Homo sapiens: one gene and its partners. The protein of the gene in region 3 purifies or fractionates together with the protein of the main gene of each other region. This does not show direct contact. Each region holds a gene or a part of one and is shown on either strand. Other genes may lie near its edges.

What was found.
Region 1: the proteins of BBS7 (region 3) and INTS6 purify together in Homo sapiens (co-immunoprecipitation; 3 studies listed by BioGRID and IntAct, with this or other methods). This does not show direct contact.
Region 2: the proteins of BBS7 (region 3) and SIMC1 purify together in Homo sapiens (affinity purification with mass spectrometry; 2 studies listed by BioGRID and IntAct, with this or other methods). This does not show direct contact.

Annotation. Positions count from the first base shown.
Region 1 is NC_000013.11:51,366,009-51,373,036, forward strand, and holds part of INTS6 (integrator complex subunit 6), read right to left. Parts: intron 3,303-7,028; coding exon 2,931-3,302; intron 1,891-2,930; coding exon 1,797-1,890; intron 1-1,796. UniProt on the Homo sapiens protein: Component of the integrator complex, a multiprotein complex that terminates RNA polymerase II (Pol II) transcription in the promoter-proximal region of genes.
Region 2 is NC_000005.10:176,241,424-176,248,451, reverse strand, and holds part of SIMC1 (SUMO-interacting motif-containing protein 1), read right to left. Parts: intron 1-7,028.
Region 3 is NC_000004.12:121,860,472-121,867,499, forward strand, and holds part of BBS7 (BBSome complex member BBS7), read right to left. Parts: intron 2,809-7,028; coding exon 2,746-2,808; intron 1,209-2,745; coding exon 1,033-1,208; intron 1-1,032.

The sequences.
Region 1 (7,028 bases), on a different chromosome or scaffold from region 3:
CAAATTATTATCCTAGTACAGTATTATAGTTTGTCCCTAAAACACTCTAGGGCTAAACAATGGGAAAGAGGTTGTTCCTTCCACAACCGAAAAGAAAAAGGAAAAAACAAACAAAAAAACAAAAAACTAATATATTCAAAATATATTCAAGGGCTGCAAACACTCTAGTGAAATTTGGGCTCCCCAAGCAAATACTTCAATAGCTTCTTCTCATGCTCTTTGTAAGCTGAATATTGAAAGGAATGTGAACAAAGTATGAATATAATCTCCCACAAAATGGAAGAAGAAATGAAAATTGGTCAGCAGCATTTAAAAACCATGGTATTCTATTACAATTTGAGAGCTAGCAAATCAAGGATAGACATCTATAATACAGAGTATAGCAAGCAGTTAAAGTTCAAGTAACAACTTTTAAAGATTTTCAGTAACAAATATGGACAGACTAAAATTGCATCTGTATACGTAACTGCTGACGGTTTTAAGAATATCCCAAGACACTGGACATTTTATTCCTACTTCCTTGCTACTTAGAAGCTAATATAAATAGCCACCATAATACTACACAACTCTCTAAAAGGTGGCAGAAGTGAAGTACAGATACCGGGGATATAAATTCCTAATGAGGTTTTAGCTGACAGAATGTTACCATAAAGAGCATAATAGGTTAAATACTCAAAATTACATGAAAAGTTATAGCCTTATCTTGATCCTGCAAACTGGCCTATGCTCTAGCCACTCCAAAAGTACAAAAAGAAAAGAAAACCAGAAACAAAACCAACTTTATCTAAAATCTTCATGTGTAGCATAGAAGAGACAGGGGGACAAAGTATAAGTGTGTTTACATTTAGAAGGTGGGATGTGATAAGCCCCAAGTTTTCTTATAATACTAAAATCCCCAAAATCTTGAAGGGAAAATAAAAAATGTTTTTAAACTCATACAACTATGTTTTCCAGTTAATTGCACTTCTTAATTACCATTTATAACCTTTATCCACCTTCTTTACACAGTGATCCCTCGGTATGGATGGGGGATTTATTCTAGGCCTCCCTATGAACACTAAAATCCACGAATGCTCAAGTCCCTTGTATAAAATGGCCCAATATTTGCATGTAACCTATGTACATTCTCCCATATGCTCTAAATAATCTCTACATTATTTATAATACTAATACAGTGTAAATACGATATGAATTAGACTGAATTATTTAGAAAATGACAAGAAAAAAAAAGCCTGTACATATTCAATACAGATACAACCATCCATTTCCCCGCCTCCAAATACTTTCAATCTGTGGTTGCTTGAATCCAATGAATGTGGAACCCAGGGATACAGAGGGCCAATGTACTAATGATCCTGGGCTACTGAAACAATCAGAATAAGGCCCATTTGTCCAATTCTTGTCTCCTTAATTACGTTTTCCCATGTAAAAATAAATGACACTCAAGTACGTTATTTTTAGTCACCAATATTAATGTATAAAGGAGAAAAATTAAAGGTTATAAAATATTAATGTAAAGATATCAAAAAGCTACAGAGAAGAATAACAAGAATTCTCCAAGTATCCAGTAATTTGTAGGGAGAAAAGGTCCATAATTCCTGAAGAATGTATGTGTGGCTGTTTTCTAAGTGAATTTCTTTCAATAAACTAAAAAAGAATAAGAATTTATTTATATGTTGGTATGCCATATACATTTATAAACAATACAAGTGCAAAACGGATACTATTAAAATACTGCCTATATAAACTGTGGACTCATTTCATCACCATTTCATTATATGCAATAGTTTATTTACCTTGATGCTTCTTTAATGACATTTTGTAAAAATATTAGTCTTGTTTGTAAACTGCCTTGCACATGCTTCAGTAAAGTGAAGATTCTTTCATATTCTTAAAGCAAAAGAAACAAAAAGAAAAATTAAGTGCCTTTCATTTGTATTCTTATTCAATATTCTTCTTTTGCAGTTTATGATATTAAGATATACTGAGATAAAAACATTCTACATAAAAATTTCACCACTCATTAGAGATTTTATATTTTAACATATATGTAAAAGTAAGTACACAGCAACAAAGATAAAACAACTAATCAAACCCTGCTTTGTAAGTAAAAGTTCCTATTAAGGTATCAAACATAAAGCTTAAAAGGATGAGTAAATAGCTTTATGGTAGTATCACTAAAAAATAAGAACAAGTGGCCTTTACAAAACTCCATCCTTACAGTTTAAAATTCTAACAGCTAACATGGGGGTAACTGGGAAGTGGGGGTAAAAACCAGACAGGTTAAGAGTGTTATTTCAGTTTAAAGTTTTCATATGAAACTCTGCAAGGGCTATAAACGTCTGAACTCCAAGGACTGATTTGTTCCCATTTCTGGACCACCCAGGTCATTCTACTACCCCAGGGCAAGTGATCTGTTAACATCCTCTAAATGAATGCCAATAATACTGAACTTTTTCCCACGAAGTTCTTTTGTGTTCATATACCAGAGAGCTTTCATAACTTTAGTTTTTTGGCCTAAACATATCCTATAATATCACAGTTTAACTACTAAACATAGTGGTAGGCACTATGACAAGAACTTTACAGACATGAAGTCATTTAATTTTCACTATATCTCTTGTGAGCTAGCTGCTATATTAAAATTCCATCGTTGGTCAGAATATTCAAGACTATGGGTTCCTGTCAATTTATCTGTACAGTGTTGCTCTGCTCTCAGTCCCTGCTGCCTACCACCATACCTAGTACCTTGGAAATAGAAGATATTTGGTGTTGGTCAGATGAATAAAGGATCTTAACTGAGATGTTGTTCAAGACAGATCTAGAATCATATGTATTCTTTTACTACAGTTACTTGACTTTTTTTTTCTTTTTTGCTTTTTGAGCACATACAGAAATCAGATCTGAGGTTCGTCTCTTATTATACATACTTCTTCCTGGCTTTCGGATCTCTTTCATTATTTGTGCTTTTAGTTCAGTATTGACCTCTTCATGGCTTCTGCAATGCATCAATTTCTTTCCTTTGTTGAGTGAAGATGCTGGTATGTTCTCTTCAGCACATTGTTCTTTATCTCTTGGCTCCTCATGATTTTCTAAAAATCCACCAACAGTGAGGTCATTGGTTCCTAAATGGTCATGACCAAGAGCCTCCATATGATTGGTTGGCCGTTCCAGTAAACTGGCTGGAGAAGATGCTGAAAATTCCGTATCCATAGCATTTGGTGTAATGTCTGATGAAAGTTGGTCTGCAACATGATTTTCAACCACATCATGTATTATCGAATCATTAGTGGTTTCTGAAACTAAAAACAAAGATACGGGGAAAAAATTATGGGATCCAGTCTCAAAGCATACAGTAAATAAAGCTACAAAAGAACATTACTACAGCAAGTCAACTGTTTTCCTTGACTAATGCAAGTTAACAAATAATGTGATATAGTTTTTAAGCATTGCCAAAGATACGGTAGATTTCAATGTGACACATACACAGTATTTACAAAATATTTACAATTTTTACCCTTGGAGGAAAAAATAAAGCCAATTTCAAGTAGTTTTTAGTTTTCTGGTTTATTCTATAGCAATTTTATTGAAACAAGTAGGTTCTTGATACTTCAATGAAATATCTATGATCAAAATTATCACGGTCATCTATCTCTACCTTAGAGAGCCCTAACTCACACATATGCCTTATACATCTGGTATCATTTAGAGGCAAAAGTAAACACTGGGTAGTTTTTACTTTCCACTTATATTTCTGCCTTTAACTGTTCCAAATTCTGCAGGGAACATACCACCAAACAGGTAATGTTTTACAGTATACCTTCTAACTAGAGAATCTAGTCATCATTTATTTACCAGTGCAGAGCAACCTGGTGCCCACTTCAGCTTATTAGACTACTAAAACTGAAAGCTCGCAAGCCTTCCTCTTAACACCAGATTATTAGACTTGCCCCACAGAAAGCAGCTGAATTTTAAGTTCTCTGATTGCTCACCAACCTCCAGGATCCCAGCTGAATTCATCTCTACTGTCCTCATTTCCTGTCCAAACTATAAACTTAGTTTACCCATATTCCCCTATACACTCATCACAAATCCCCCAAATTCCTGACTCTCTCCTAAATTCGATTCCATGATTTGCAAACTCCTCTTTACTGAATATTCTCTACAACAACTTATGCTTTAACTGAAACCCAGCTCTCCTGTATGGAGACTGCTCTCCTTTCCAGACCAAAAGTAGAAATTGCTTTCTCTTGCACAATCTCCATAGGCATAAAAGGACATGGAGTCACTGATTCCTTCACTTCCTAGTGCTATTGCAAAATTACTCCCTTGCACTCTTGTGAGACTCAACCATGCCATTCACGCTGTCTCTCCTTATCACTATCTTAGGCCAATCTCCAGGGTACAAGCCTGTAAGCCACTGTTGTCTCTGGCACCCAGTTCATAGCCTTCCTTCTGTTGTGCTGAGCCCCTATCAACTCCAGTGGGGATGGCACCAAGTTCAAGAAGCCAAAGAAGAGACCCAGAGCCAGCAAACAAGACAAGGCGTTTTGTTGGGGGCTACATAAAGGGGAGCAAGCCCAGTGGTGGCAAGCTAGGCAGGAGAAGCACCTTACATACAGTCCAATGGTGGTGGGCTGGACAGGATAACTGCACGGCCCAGTGGCAGCAGGCTGGGCAGAAAAATGGCAACTGCTTGCAAAAAGTATACAGTTTATATCGTATTTTCACTTAGCACTCTTCCCCCTAACAACCTCCACCTGGCAACCTTCATTTAACCCAAAACAAAGGGCCTCAATCCCCTGTCTGGCCTGCATTCACTTCACAATGGGTTAGGGGCACAGATGTTCCTTATAGATAGGGAATGGATCTTTGGGTTAGCCACCCTATTCCCTAGCTCAGAACTCCCAACCGCATGCAGGTGTTGTCTGCAAGCAGGGTCATTCTCAAGGTATGCTTCAGTTATTGCTATCAAGCACATCTGCCATGCACATTCCACCCCCAAAGCCCTTCTGACTTCATTCTTGGTTCTTACTACTACTCGAAGTCTGGTGTGTGGACAAGCAGCAGTACCACCAACAGAGAGCTTGCTAGAAATGCTCATCTGCCTCAGACTGAATAAATGAGAATCTGTAGTTTAACTAGACCTCCCAGGTGATTCACATGCATATTCAAGTCTGAGAAGTGCTGTGGTGACTTCAGTGTTTAAGCAGATCACCTGTTAAGAACCTGGCCTCCCCATTCCCCAGCTTCTCTCTAAAGAACTTACACTTACACCTTCGCCTTTCACATCCAGACAAATTCAGAGATGGAGGAGTATCATCTTCACAGTACTCCCGCTACTGCTCCTTAACTCAGCCAGACTTTGACTCTAGCAATTCCTCTACTTTCTTCCTCCTATTAACCATATCCCTTCTAAGTAGCCAATTCTGTATCAGGCTTATATCCCTGTAAGTAAAAGTGATATATCACTTTTACTAATGTCTGAATTTCTCTTATTCTACTGTCTTCCCATAACATCTGCCAAGCAAAATCCCATCTCTTGACTCACTATCTGCTTGCCCCAGACTTGCATTTGGAATCATGAGCGCTGCTGGAGAAATAGGGCCCAGCTCTACAGAGTGGTCACAATCACCATCTCTACTTGGATCCCAGGCACTGTCTAGCAACCTTATCACAATCTTTTCTCTCTCTCTCCCACAGAGATTGTTAAACTCCCTCACTCTCTTCAAACCTCTGACTTTCCCAATATCCCCTTCCGTCTCAGCAGTATACTTCACCTTCTACCTCACAGAGCTCGGAAGAAAAGCAAAGCCATGATTAAGGGACTTCCTTTACCTTCCTCTAACTAAATTGCACACACCCTCGCCCCACTTCCCCCACATTCAGTGTCAATGGAGGGAGCATTCTTTCATCTATGCTCTAGACCATTCCCTCTTGCGTTCTCAGTAATTTTGTGCTGAGTATGCCTTTTCTCATTTTTATTTTCAACCTCTCCCTCTTTACTGGTTCCACCACCAGCACTGAAACATGCTCAAGCATCTCTGATATTAAAAACAAAGAAAAATCACCATTTTCAAAACCCTGTGAACTCTTCCAGATACCATGCTCTTTTCCCATCTTCCTTTTACAACTAAACTTAACTGGTCGTTTATACTCATAGCCATTGTTTCCATTTTCTCACCTCTCACTCCTCCCATAACCCCTTGTTAGGCTCTGCCCCTTTACTCCACAGAAACTGCTCTTGCTAAGATCGCCAAAGACCACAGAATCTTTCCATTTCTCTTGATTGAACAGTTTTTTTTTTTTTTTTAAAGTATTTGGGACAACTACCCACTCAATTATCTTGCCCTTTAGCTTCCATGACATTAAATTCTCCCCTATTTTCTCCTAGCTCTAAAATTCTTCCTTCTCAATCTCCTTTTCTGCTTTCTCCTCTTAACTTTGGCACTTTCAAGGTTCTGTTCTGAGCGTTTTTTCTTCTTTTTGCCTTGGTGAGATTTTATTCAGTGCAATAGGCAGTAACCTGCCTCTCATACTACCCCTCTAGCCCAATCCTCTTCTCCTGAGCCCAAACTCAATATTCATCTTCTAACTTAGGATCTCCACTTGATGACCTAATATGCACTTCTAAACTAAACTCATTTATCATTTCTTCTTCCACCCACCCAGTGTCTCTCAAGACATACGTCTGACTCCTCCCCTGCTCTGGTCCCAACATCTGACCAGTAACCAAGTCCTTCAGTGGTATGTCCAGGTATTTCTCAAATACATATTCTTCTTGAAACCCCACTGTCAGGTCAGCAGCATCTGTTCCCCGGGTTTCCCAACTGATTCCTGTGCATGCACAATTATTTAATAACATCAAATATACAGTCAGTGTCCATACTCTCCAACATGTTTTCTGTTTGTGGAAAAGTTTGATTTTGTTTGATTCTGAGTACAGTTAAGGCCTATACATTGCAACTGGCTTATATATCTCTTAAACTACATTTGAATCTGTAAAATCCTTCCGTACCCCTTTTATT
Region 2 (7,028 bases), on a different chromosome or scaffold from region 3:
AATGTGCAAAAGTCACAAGCATTCCTATACACCAATAATAGACAAACAGAAAGCCAAATCATGAGCAAGCTCCCATTCATAATTGCTACAAAGAGAATAGAATACCTAGGAATACAACTTACAAGGGATGTGAAGGACCTCTTCAAGGAGAACTACAAACCACTGCTCAACGAAATAAAAGAGGACACAAACAAATGGAAAAACATTCCATGCTCATGGATAGGAAGAATCAATATCATGAAAATGGCCATACTGCCCAAAGAAATTTATAGATTCAATGCTATCCCCATCAAGCTGCCACTGACTTTCTTCACAGAATTAGAAAAAACTACTTTAAAGTTCATAAGGAACCAAAAAAGAGCCCATATAGCCAAGACAATCCTAAGCAAAAAGAACAAAGCTGGAGGCATCACACTACCTGAGTTCAAACTATACTACAAGGCTACAGTAACCAAAACAGGATGGTACTGGTACCAAAACAGATATATAGACCAACGGAACAGAACAAAGGCCTCAGAAATAATGCCACACATCTACAACCATCTGATCTTTGACAAACCTGACAAAAACAAGCAATGGGGAAAGAATTCCCTACTTAATAAATGGTGTTGGGAAAACTGGCTAGCCATATGCAGAAAACTGAAACCGGGCCCCTTCCTTACACCTTATACAAAAATTAACTGAAGATGGATTAAAGACTTAAATGTAAACCTAAAACCATAAAAACCCTAGAAGAAAACCTAGGCAATACCATTCAGGACATAGGCATGGGCAAAGACTTCATGACTAAAACACCAAAAGCAATGGCAACAAAAGCCAAAATTGACAAATGGATCTGATTAAACCAAAGAGCTTCTGCACAGCAAAAGAAACTATCATCAGAGTGAACAGGTAACCTACAGAATGGGAGAAAATCTTTGTAATCTATCCATCTGACAAAGGGCTAATATCCAGAATCTACAAGGAACTTACACAAATTTACAAGAAAAAAACAAACAACCCCATCAAAAAGTGGGCGAAGGATATAAACAGACACTTCTTAAAAGAAGACATTTACGCGGCCCACAAACATATGAAAAAAAGCTCATCATCACTGGTCATTAGAGAAATGCAAATCAAAAGCACAATGATACACTATCTCACACCAGTTAGAATGGCAATCATTAAAAAGTCAGGAACCAACAGATGCTGGAGAGGATGTGGAGAAATAGGAACACTTTAATCTGTTGGAGGGAGTGTAAATTAGTTCAACCATTGTGGAAGACAGTGTGGTGATTCCTCAAGGATCTAGAACCAGAAATACCATTTGACCCAGCAATCCCATTACTGGGTATATACCCAAAGGATTATAAATCATTCTACTATAAAGACACATGCACATGTATGTTTATTGCAGCACTATTCACAATAGCAAAGACTTGGAACCAACCCAAATGCCCATCAATGATAGACGCATAAAGAAAATGTGGCACATATACACCATGGAATACTATGCAGCCATAAAAAAGGATAAGTTCATGTCCTTTGGAGGGACATGGATGAAGCTGGAAACCATCATTCTCAGCAAACTAACACAGGAACAGAAAACCAAACACTGCATGTTCTCACTTATAAGTGGAAGTTGAACAATGAGAACACATGGACACAGGGATGGGAACATCACACACCCGGGCCTGTTGGGGGGTGGGGGGCTAGGGGAGGGATTGCATTAGGAGAAATACCTAAGGTAGATGATGGGTTGATAAGTGCAGCAGCCACCATGGCATGTGTATACCTATGTAACAAACCTGCACGTTCTGCACATGTATCCCAGAACTTAAAGAATAATAATAATAATAAATAAAAAATTAGCTAGGCATGGTGGCGCTTGCCTGTAATCCCAGCTACTCGGGAGGCTGAGTGGGAGAATCACTTGAACCCGGGAAGTGGAGGTTGCAGTGAGCCAAGATCACTTTGCCTGGGTGGCAGAGTGAGACTCCATCTCAAGACAAACAAACAAACAACACACACACACACACACACACACACACACACACACACACACCCCTGAACTATTATACAAGCTGATTGGCAATGTTTTTGGGAAAACATCTTGATCAAATGAGGGAAATGTGAGTTGTCAGTATCAAAATGGAGTCACTTGGCCAGGCGTGGTGGCTCATGCCTGTAATCCCAACACTTTGGGAGGTCGAGGTGGGTGGATCACAAGGTCAGCAGTTTGAGACCAGCCTGGCCAATATGGTGAAACCCCGTCTCTACGAAAAATACAAAAAAATTAGCCAGGTGTAGTGGCACATGCCTGTAATCCCAGCTACTCAGGAGGCTGAGGCAGGAGAATTGCTTGAATCCGGGAGGTGGAGGTTGCAGTGACCCGAGATCGTGCCACTGCACTCCAGCCTGGGTGACAGAGCGAGACTCGTCTCAAAAAAAAAAAAAAAACCTTGACAAATAGAGCTAGGGAAGGCCATGAAGGGAGGATTATTATGCACAAATGCCTGATAAGTACCACAAAAGGCTCTGCAAAAACCACAACCTTACAGAAAAAAATACTTCCATGAGGACATCTGCCCAGCAACTGCCTGCTCGACCTTGGACTGGAGCCACCCTTGTTATTAATCCTTGCAGATAACGATAATTATCTCAAAACAATTATGTAATCCTCCTCATTTTTCCTTTAAAAGCTTTTGCCTTCCTTTACCTCCCTGAATACACACATAGTTTATTATGGCTCACACACTCCGGTTGCAATGCCATTCCTGAATAAATATCACTTTCTTTTTAGAGAGTCGCTGTCTGTTATTTAGGTTGACATAAGCATGACAACTAAGAAATCATAAAGAAAAGGAGTGGTAGAATTGACTATATAAAAATGTAAAACTTCTGTAATTAAAAAAACAAAATCGAAAGTTGAAAGAAAATTGTAACATGTATGACAAGAGGCTATATTAGTTTCCTAGTAAAAATTACCAGAAACTAGGTGGATTTAAACAACAGAAATTTATCCCCTCACAGTCCTGGAGGCTAAAGGTTTGAAATCAAGGTGTCTACAGAGCCACGTTCTCTTGAAGGCTCCAGGGAAGAATCTGTTTCATGCCTTTTTCTTAGCTCCTGATGTCGCCAGCAGTCCTCGGTGTTCCTTGGCTTGCAGCTGCATAACTTCGGTTTCTGCTTCCACTGTCACATGGCGTTCTTCCCCTGTGTCTTCACATGTTCTTCTCATAAGGACAGTAGTCATGTTGGATTAAGGGTTCACTCTACTCGGCACAACCTCATCTTCACTGATTATATCTGCCAATGACCCTATTTCTAAATAAGGTCACAATCTGAGGTAGTGGGGGGTTAGAACTTCAGCACATCTTTTTAGGAGATACAGTTCCACCTATAACAATCTTTAATATATAAGTAGATTTAACAAATGAGTAAGAAATGTTGGCCGGGTGCGGTGGCTCATGCCTGTAATCCTAGCACTTTGGGAGGCCGAGGTGGGTGGATCACTTGAGGTCAGGAGTTTGAGACCAGCCTGACCAACATGGTAAAACCCTGTCTCTACTAAAAATATAAAATTAGCTGGGCATGGTGGCACATGCCTGTAATCCCAGCTGCTTGGGAGTCTGAGGCAGGAGAATCACTTGAGCCAGGTAGGTGGAGGTTGCAGTGAGCTGAGATTGCGCCATTGCACTCCAGCCTGGGCAACAAGAGTGAAACTCCCTCTCAAAAAAAAAAAAAAAAAAAGGAAAAAAAAAAAGAAACATTATAACACTGCAACAGAAAAATGGGCAAAGGACAAGCATAGGGAATTTGCACACATACCCTATGTGTTTCCAATAAACATAAGCAAGATGTCTGGCTGTACTGCATGTGAGCACACTCCTTTATCTCCAACCTCACTAGCTGCTCTTCCTCCCTTGGGACACTATGGTGTTCCCTTGGGCTAGGTTCTGGATGTTCTTCCTCTTGTCACCTCAACCTAGATGATTTTATCCAGGTCAATGACTTCACTATAACCTATGCGCTAACAAGACTAAATTTGTATCTCTAGTCAGGACTTTTCTTCAGAGCTCTAAACTCAGTACAAATGTTATACTTGGCATCTCCAGTTGGCTATTCCACAGGCATCGTTAAGTTTTATACCTTCAAAACAGAACTCTTGAATCTTTCCTCTAACCCTGTTCCTCCCAAGTCTGCTTCATTTCAATGCATGACACCAACATGCATTCAGTTGCTCAAGCCAGAACTCAGGGCATCCTTCTTCATTCCTTCCTTTCCCTTGTTATCCACATCCAAGTTATCAGGACCTGTTGATTTTATTTACTAAATATCTACATCCCTCCACTCTCCCAGTCTGTACCACCACTCCAGTCCAAGCTACAGTTATTTCTGACCTGGACTACTACAGCCAACCTTCTAACTGATCTCCCTAATTTCACTCTTCCCCTCTTACAGTAGGGTGACTACACTTCTGCTTTGTTTGGGACAGTTCCAGTTTTCACCTGTTGCTTGACATCCTGGTCCAGTTAGCATCCCTTTTCATTTGCAAAAGTTTCCCAATTGGATGATAAATTATATGGTCTCCCTACCTTACCATCTTTTCTTTTCACAGTAGCTAAAGTCATCTCTAAAAAATGTAAATCAAGGCTAGGTGCAGTGGCTCACGCCTGTAATCCCAGCACTTTGGGAGGCCGAGGCGGGTGGATCATGAGGTCAGGAGATCTAGACCATCCTGGCCAACATGGTGAAACCCCGTCTCTACTAAAATACAAAAAATTAGTCAAGCGTGGTGGTGTGCTTGTAGTCCCGGCTACTCGGGAGGCTGAGGTGGGGGAAATTGCTTGAACCTGGGAAGTGGGGGTTGCAGTGAGCCGAGATCGCACCACTGCACTACAGCCTGGGCAACGCAACAGAGCAAGACTCCATCTCCAAAAAAAAAAAAAGTAAATCAAATCATGTCACTGTCCTGCTTAAACCTTCAAAGATTTCTTACTGTATTACAATAAAATCCAAATCCCTTATTGTGGTCTCCAAAGCCCTATAACCTAACCTACCTACTTCTCATCTCTTCTGACTCTGTCCATCAGTCGTTACATTGCAGCCTCACTGGCTTTCCATTCTTCCAGTAAGTCATGCTCATTCCCGCCTCCAAACTTTTGGTTTTGTTGTTCCCTTTGACAATGCCTTATTCATCTAGATCTTATAACTAATTTGTTGTCATTTTAGTCTCAGGTCAAATATTAACTCTTCAGAGAGGCCTTCTCTGAAAACACAATCAAATGTTCCCAATCCCACCAAAGTTACTATTATACTGTTCTCTTATTTGTTAGTTTGTTTACTGCCTATCTTTCCACAGTAGAATGTAGTTCCATTATCATCTTGTTCACCTCTGGTCCCCAGGGTTACAGCATATGCTCAATAAATATTTATTGAATAAATGAATCATAATAAAAAAATAAAAAATAATGACATCTTATGGAATCTGGCTATCAAACAGCAAAGATTAAAAGAACAAAAATACCGTATTTTTTCCCCTAACACTCTGTATTATCACCTGACATTACATTTATAGTGTTGTTTACTATCTGTGTCCCCTCAGTAAAATGAAATCTCCATGACGGCAGGGACTTGGTTTTCATAGATGTATTCCCAGCACCTCTAAGAGTGCCTGGTATATAATAAGTGTTCAATAAATATTTATGGAATAATGTAACAATACCTAGGGGTGACTAGGCAGCAGAGAAAGAGATATGATTGGCCATATACCACTGGTAAGAATATTAATGCACAATTTCTGTAGGAAATTTGGCAATACAGTTGATTCATGAACAACACAGGTTTGAACTGCATGGGTCCACTTACAAGAGAGTTTTTTTCAATAAATATATTGGAAAATTTTTTGGCGATTTATAACAATTTGGAAAACTCACAGATGAACTCCACAGCCTATAAAAATTGAAAAAAACTAAGAAAAAGATATGTCCTGAATGCATAAAATATATGTAGATACTAGCCTATTTTATCCATTTACTACCATAAAATCAACACAAATCTATTATACAAAGTTAAACTTTATCAAAATTTATGCACACAATCACTTACTGACCATAGATGGTGACATCTGCAGTTGACAGAAATGTAAAGATGCAATATTAACTCACAACTGCATATTTTTAAATTCATTATTTTTTTCTTTTTAATTTGTATCACAACTGCATAAAATTTACCATAGACTACACTGTACTACCGTGATAATAATGTCCTACTACCACAGACATCTGCTGCTGCTGTGGTGGGCTCAAGTGTTGTGAGGATCCACTTAAAACGCCACGTGACACTAATCAATTTCTGCACTACTTCCCAGTAAACTGTGTATCACGGTAACAAGTGTTCTCTCCTGGGTTTTTTTCCACATATACTTGTTTAATCATGTGTAGGGTAATATCGTAAACCTTGAATAACACCATGAAACCCATACAAAGTGCTTAGTGATGCTGGATGTGCTCTCAAGAAACAGAGAAAAGTCATGACATAAGAAAAGCTGAATCGCTTGAGATGTACCGTAGATAGAGGTCTGCAGCTGTGGTTGTCCCCTATTTCAGACAGATGATTTATCTTGTAAACAGACGATGTAAACCTATGGTATTGACAAATGCAGTATAGTACTGTAAATGTATTTTATCTTCCTTATGATCTTAACATTTTTCTCTTGCTTACTTTATCGTAAGAGTCCATATAACATACAAAACATGAGTTAACTGCTTATGTTACTGGTAAGGCTTCCAGTCAACAGTAGGCCACTGGTAGTTAAGTTTTCGAGGAGTCAAATGTTACATGTAAATTTTCAACTGCACGGGGGGGTTAGCAACCCTAATCCCCGTGTTCTTCAAGGGTTAGCTACATATAAAGTAGGGCACACCTTTTGACTCAGCAATCTAACTTCTAAGAGGAACTTAATAAACAAATGAACAAGAGTACAAAGATTATGAGGGAATTTTTCACTGGGTTCTTAGAGAAAATTTAGAAACGAAGGCATAATA
Region 3 (7,028 bases):
ATCTTTGCCACTCTAGTAAAAACATTTAAGAAACCACTTGAAGAGACTGTTACTGAGAAACTCTCTATCTTTCTCACACTACTATCCATATAACTGTCCGAATGTAGAGTTATGCTATTAACACATTACTTTCAGTATTCCATAATTATCATTGGCCATGTCTATATACAAGTGTATTTCAAAAGTGTTACTATTCTTGTTAAACCATTTGAAATTACATATTTCCACTTATCATGGTTTAATTTTAATCTAATTTCACCAAGCCAATGTTTTACATCCCAAACATCAGGAGATGTGCTGTGCATTATACAAAACTTTGGGCTGAATCAGTTGTTTCTAGCCTAAGAGTCTGGCTGATTATATAACTTGGCTGCACTAGATTCAAAGGAAGAACTTAAAAAATAAAAATAAAACCTACTCCTGGTTATTTTGATTCGGCAGGTATGAGGTAGGACAAGGAATTGTTTAAGTGGCCCAAGGGATTCTTCTAAGTAGCAAATATAAGAAATAATGAATTAGATGAATTTTAAAGCCCTTTTCAGCTCCCTGTGATTCAAAAACTCAAATCTGAATTGCAAAATCTCACATATCAGGCAGCCATTTAGGGAGCTATATTTCACTTAGAGTCTTACCTGATATACCTGAAATTATACCCTATTGGTAATCACTAACTTTGACAGCCAGCCTTTTAACATAATGATGCTACCTGAAAACCAGAACTATCAAAAATAGCCAAGGAACATAAAGCTAAATATCTAGATTTATTTTCAATTTTTTTGATACCTTGATCATGAATCAAACTGAACCAAGTTGTCAAAAATGATTGTATAAATACTATAAAGTTCTTTAAAAAAATTTCAACAACCAATTTAATATTGATTGTAGGTCAAATTTAGTTTCTGACTAATAAAATACCTTTAGTTAATTTTATTTTCCAGAAAGCCTATTAAGATATGATACTTAGTTGCCTCACATCTATCCAAAATATTATAAATAAGTATGTAAAAATACAAAAGAGAACAAAAGACATACATAGCTTTAATGCTTTCAGTGAGGTTTGTTTCAAAGGAGAGGAACTGTTTTCCTCTTTTTGTGAAGCCTCTAATCTCAGATGCTGCAGCAATAAAAATTTTCTCCTGAGGTGTGTTGATAACCCCTCCCAGTTCCAGCCTTGCAATCTTCGGCCCGGGTAAAGTCTTGAACACTGCCTGAAAAAAATCATTCAGGAAAAAAGTACACAAATTACTTTATTGTGAGCATTTTTTCCTTTACAATAGAAAATGTTATGATGTTAAATTTGCAAAATATTATAGTTCCACTATATAGAAATAATTTTAGATAATAATCTATATACTTCAGCAGGTCTTCAGGTTTTTTGCTATACTTAACTTTTAAATATATATTCCCACACATATTTGAATGATGTCATTGAAATCTAAATCCTTGTAATTCAAAGTACAGTTCACTAAGCAGCAATGTTAGCATCACTAAATTTATTTAAAATGCAGCAGATCAACTGAATGAGAATCTGTATTTTAACAAGATTCCCCAGCTGGTTCCTATGCCTACTGAAGTTTTAGAGGCATTGGATTAACAATACTCCTACGAACAGGGAAGTCCATTTGGCAAATTCTTTAATGAGGTCCAATGAACATGTTTTTACACTTCAATCATCTTTTAAAACTAATCTTTCCTGGCTTCTTTACAATTTTTATAAATTTTAATAGTTAAAGGACTATAGAATTTACTGAAAATGTGAATGTATGACTTAATACCTATAATCATATATCTATTTAACTGAAAACAATATTCATTTCATTAATTTTTTTGTGGTTATTTTCCATTTTATTATTTGCACCAGCTTCTTCTCCTCCACTTCCTCCCCATGACTTTATATACAGAGAATAAGATATCTGGGAGAATATGAATAATGGAAACACTGAGTTTCTGGTAGTTTTTATTCTCTTCATCTTTCTGGAAATTCCATATAATATATAATGAATACTAGAATTCACATCTCAGACTCATCATTCTAAGTTTCTAATTATGATCTGTAAATATGATAATGTAATAGTAATAACTTCCTTGATTAGGTTAAATTAAGTGGAAAAGGTTGTGGGTTAGTTGCTTCCATGATTACATTATGCTACATAAGATTCTTTCTTAGCAGACTACAGAAATTTCCTGCTGGCTTTGATGAATTAGATTACCATGTTGTGAGAAGGACTGTAAGAGAACCACAGAGCAAGAAATTGCAGAGACCTCAAGGAATTGAGAGCAGCCCCTGGTTTACAGATGTTAATAAAGTGGGGACCTCAGTCCTATAATAGCAAGGAACTGAATTCTGCAAACAACCACATGAGCTTGGAATAAGACCCCACACTCTAGAAAGGAACACAGCTCAGCTGACATCTAAATTGCAGCTGTGTGAAACCTTGAGCACAAACTCCTGTGCTACAGAAACTGTTAGATAATAAATGTGTGTTGTGTTAAGGCCCTAAATTTGGGGTAATATATTACACAGCATAGAAAAGTAACCCACGACCACAGGATGCCAAAGGTGCCTTACAACTAGCTAGCAAATTACTTTTGTGCTACCCGCAGACTCATATCTCACATAACTACTTACCTCAGAACCCATTTTCCATTACCTGTATTTTAGGAAATTTTTAACCTAGTATTATTCAATAAATAGTGCATTCTCTTTTAGAAAACCATTTTTCCCCTTCACAAAGCTATACTTACTGCTGCTTCTCCTTTCTTCATGCCAAAGCACATAACTACCCCATCATGATCTCCAATAACCACCTGTAATAGATGGAAGATAATCTAAAATTACTATTATTAATATTATGACCTAATAATTATATACAGGGAAAGCAAGATTCTTAATTTATAAATACTGACTTAATAGAGATCAGAAAATCTAGGAAAGACACCCCCACAAAAAATAATCCTCAAAAGAACAAGAGCCAAAAGAGAAGGATATGGAGAGTCATTAGAAAAGTAATTGGCCATAGATTTTGTTCCTATAATGTTAATAGGACAACACAATATATTTTGTTTTGCTTTTTTTCAACTTTTATTGTAGGTTCTGGGAGTCCACATGCAGGTTGTTACGAAGGTATACTGCCAGACAACAGTTATGGACAGAAATGCCTACAAAGTAATTTTTTTTTCATAACTGGAGCATAAGAACATTTTAAGATTAACTTTTAAAACAGATTATCAAATAAAGTTGTGACTGACATATTTAATAATTTTAAACACCTTTTTTAAAAGAAAAATTTTAATGTATGAAAATGTACACAAAATATTATAATGAATTATCATGTGCCTATCACCTAGTTTCAACAATTACCAACATGTAGACAATGAATTGTTTTGAAATAAATATAGAGGGACATTTTAACACTTCTTCCTCAAAAGTAGATATCAAACAACCTTAGACCAGTTCCAGTACGTGGCCTGCTGGGTACCAGGCCACACAGCAGGAGGTGAGCAGCGGGAAAGTGATCATTTACAGACTGAGCTCCGCCTCCCGTCAGATCAGCAGCGTCATTAGATTCTCATAGAAGCACAAACCCTATTGTGAACTGCGCATGGTTGTATGCTCCTTATGAGAATCTAACTAATGCCTGATGATCTGAGGTAGAACACAGTTTCATCCCAAAACAATCCCAGCCCCATTGGTGGAAAAACTGTCTTCCACGAAACTGGTTCCTGGTGCTAAAAAACTCTGGGAGCTCTGATTTAAGAAACTACTACTTATCAAGTTTAGGCATAGTATCAAACAGAGAGTCACAATCATCTGAAAAAGCTATTTAAATACCCCTCCTTATTTCCAGCTATGTATCTGTGTAAGCTGGATTTTCTTCAAATATTTCAGCCAAAACAACATAGCACAGCAGATTGAATGCAGTAAACAAATATGAAAATCTATGTGTGTATGCTTATGCCAGGACATTAAACAAGTTGCAAAAAGTATAACATAATGACACTATACTCACTAAATTCTTTGTTTTGAAAAATAGTTATTTTTCATAAAGACATGTTATGTAAACATGTAATAATTTTTTTAAAATAAAATAGTTTAAGCATTTCTTAGTTTTCATTTTAATATAGTAAGTATTGATACATACAACTTACATAAACAAATGTTCTTTGGGATCCTCAATCATTTAATTGTGTAAAGGGGTGCTGAGACCAAAAATTTTGAGAAGTGCTAATCTAGTAGACTTAATACAGTAAATGACAATCAGAAATCTGTTGGTTTATCTTTTTTATTTTATTCATTTATTTTTTAATTGACAACAATTGTACATATTCGTGGGGTACATAGCAATGTTTCAATACATATAACATATACTGATCACACTGGGATAATTAGCATATCCATCATCTAAAATACTGATCATTTCTCTGGGTTAGGATCAGTCAATACCTTCTTTTTAGCTATTTGAAACTATATATTGTTAACTATAGTCATCCTATAGTGGTATAGACTACTTGAGTTTTTTCTTCCTATCTAGCTATAATTTTATATCCTTTAATAAATATCTCCCTATCCCTCCCTTCCCTCTACCCTTTGCAGCCTCTAGTATTCTCTGTCCTACTTTTTACTTTAACGTGACCAACTTTTTTTAGCTTCCACATATTAATGAGAACATGTGGTGTTCAACTTTCTGTTCCTGGCTTATTTCACTAAACATAATGTCCTCCAGTTCCATCCATGTTACTGCAAATGATAGGATTTCATTCTTCTCTCTCTTTTTTTTTTTTTTGAGACAGAGTTTTGCCCTTGTCGGCCAGGCTGGAGTGCAAAGGTGCCATCTCAGCTCACTGCAACCTCTGCCTCCTGGGTTCAAGCGATTCTCCCATGTCAGCCCCCCAAGTAGCTGGAATTACAGATGCCTGCCATCGTGCCTGGCTAATTTTTGTATTTTTAGTACAGATGGGGTTTCACCATGTTGGCCAGGCTGGTCTCCAACTGCTGACCTCAGGTGATCCGCCCGCCTCAGCCTCCCAAAGTGCTGGGATTACAGGCGTGAGTCACCATGCCTGGCCAGGATTTCATTATTTTTTATTGCTGAATAGTATTCCATTGTGTATATATACCACTTTTTTTTATACATTCATCTGTTGTTAAACACCCAGGCTGATTCCATATCTTGGCTATTGTGAACAGTGCTGCAATAAAACATGAGGCTGCAGTTGTCTCTTTGATATGATGATTTCCTTTCCTTTGGGTAAATTCCCAGCAGTGGGGTTGCTAAATCATATGGTCGCCCTATTTGTAGTTTTTGAAAAATCCTACATACTGTTCACTATAGTGGATGTACTATCCCACCAATGGCACAGAAGAGTTTCCTTTCTCCACATTCTTGCCAGTATTTGTTGTTTTTTGGTTTTTTGTTTTCTTGTCTTTTTGATAACAGCCATTCTAACTGGGGTAAGATGATACTTCATTGTGGTTTGATTTGCCATTTTCCTGATGATTAATGATGTTAAGTATTTTTTCATGTTTTTTTGGTCATTTGTATGTATTCTTCTGAGAAATGTTTAGATCATTTGCCCACTTTTTAATCAGATTGCTTGTTTGTTTGCTATTGGTATGTTTGAGTTCCTTGTATATTCTGGATATTAATTCCTTGTTGGATGAGTAGTTTGCAAATATTTTAAATCCCATTCTATAGATTGTCTTTTCACTCTTGTTGATTGTTTCCTTTCCTGTGTAGAAGCTTTTTGGTTTGATATGATCCCACTTGTTTATTTTTGCTTTTGTTGTTTGTGTTTTTGAGGTCTTATTCATTAACTATTTTCCCAGACCAATGTCCTAAAGCATTAACATTTAGGTCTTTTTTTGTTTTTTGTTTTGTTTTGTTTTGTTTTTTTGAGATGGAGTCTTCCTCTCCTGAGTAGCTGGGATTACAGGTGCCTGCCACAATGACAAGCTAATTTTTTTGTATTTCTAGTAGAGATAGGGTTTCACCATGTTGGCCAGGCTGGTCTTGAACTCCTGACCTCAAGTGATCCACTCGCCTTGGCCTCCCAAACTGCAGGGATTACAAGTGTGAGCCACCACACCTGGCCACATTTAGGTCTCTGATCCATTTTGTGTTCATTTTTATATGGGGTGAGAGGTGGGGGTCTTGGTTTCATCCTTCTGCATATGAATATTCAGTTTTCCCAGCACCATTTATTGAAGAGGCTGTCCTTTCCCCAGGGGCTGTTCTTGGCTCTTTTGTCAAAAATCAGTTGGTTGTAGATATGTGGATTAATTTCTGAGTTCTCTATTCCATTTTATGTTCTCTGTGTCTCTGTGTTTTTATGCCAGTATTATGCTGTTTTGGTTACTACAGCTTTGTAGTATATTTTGAGATCTGGTAGTGTAATGCCCCAGCTTTGTTCCTTTTACTCAGGATTGTTTTGGCTATTTGGGGTCTTTGTGGTTCCATACAAATTTTAAGATTTTTTTTCTCTTCCTGTGAAAAATGACATTGGTATTTCGATAGAGATTGCATTGAATCTGTAGATTGCTTTGGGTTGTATTGTTATTTTAACAAAATTAATTCTTCCAATCCATGAACATGGGATGTTTTTCCATTTGTTGGTATCCTCTTTAATTTCTTTCATCAGTGTTTTATAGTTTTTTTTATAGAGGTCTTTCATTTCCTTGGTTAATTTATTCCTAAGTATTTTATCTTTTATCTATTATAATTGGGATTGTGTTCTTGATTTCTTTTTCAGCTAGTTTGTTGTGTATAGAAACACTACTAATTTCAGTATATTAATTTTGTATCCTGCAACTTTACTGAATTCATTTGTCAGTTCTAAGAGTTTTTTGGTAGAGTCTTTAGGTTTTTCTATATATAGGATCATGTCATCGGCAAACAGAGATAATTTGACTCTCCTTTCCAATCTGGATGCACTTTATTTCTTTTTCTTGTATAATTGCTCTGGCTAGGACTTCTAGTACTATGTGTAATTGTTGATTCATCTTGCTAAAATGTTTATATATCAGGATA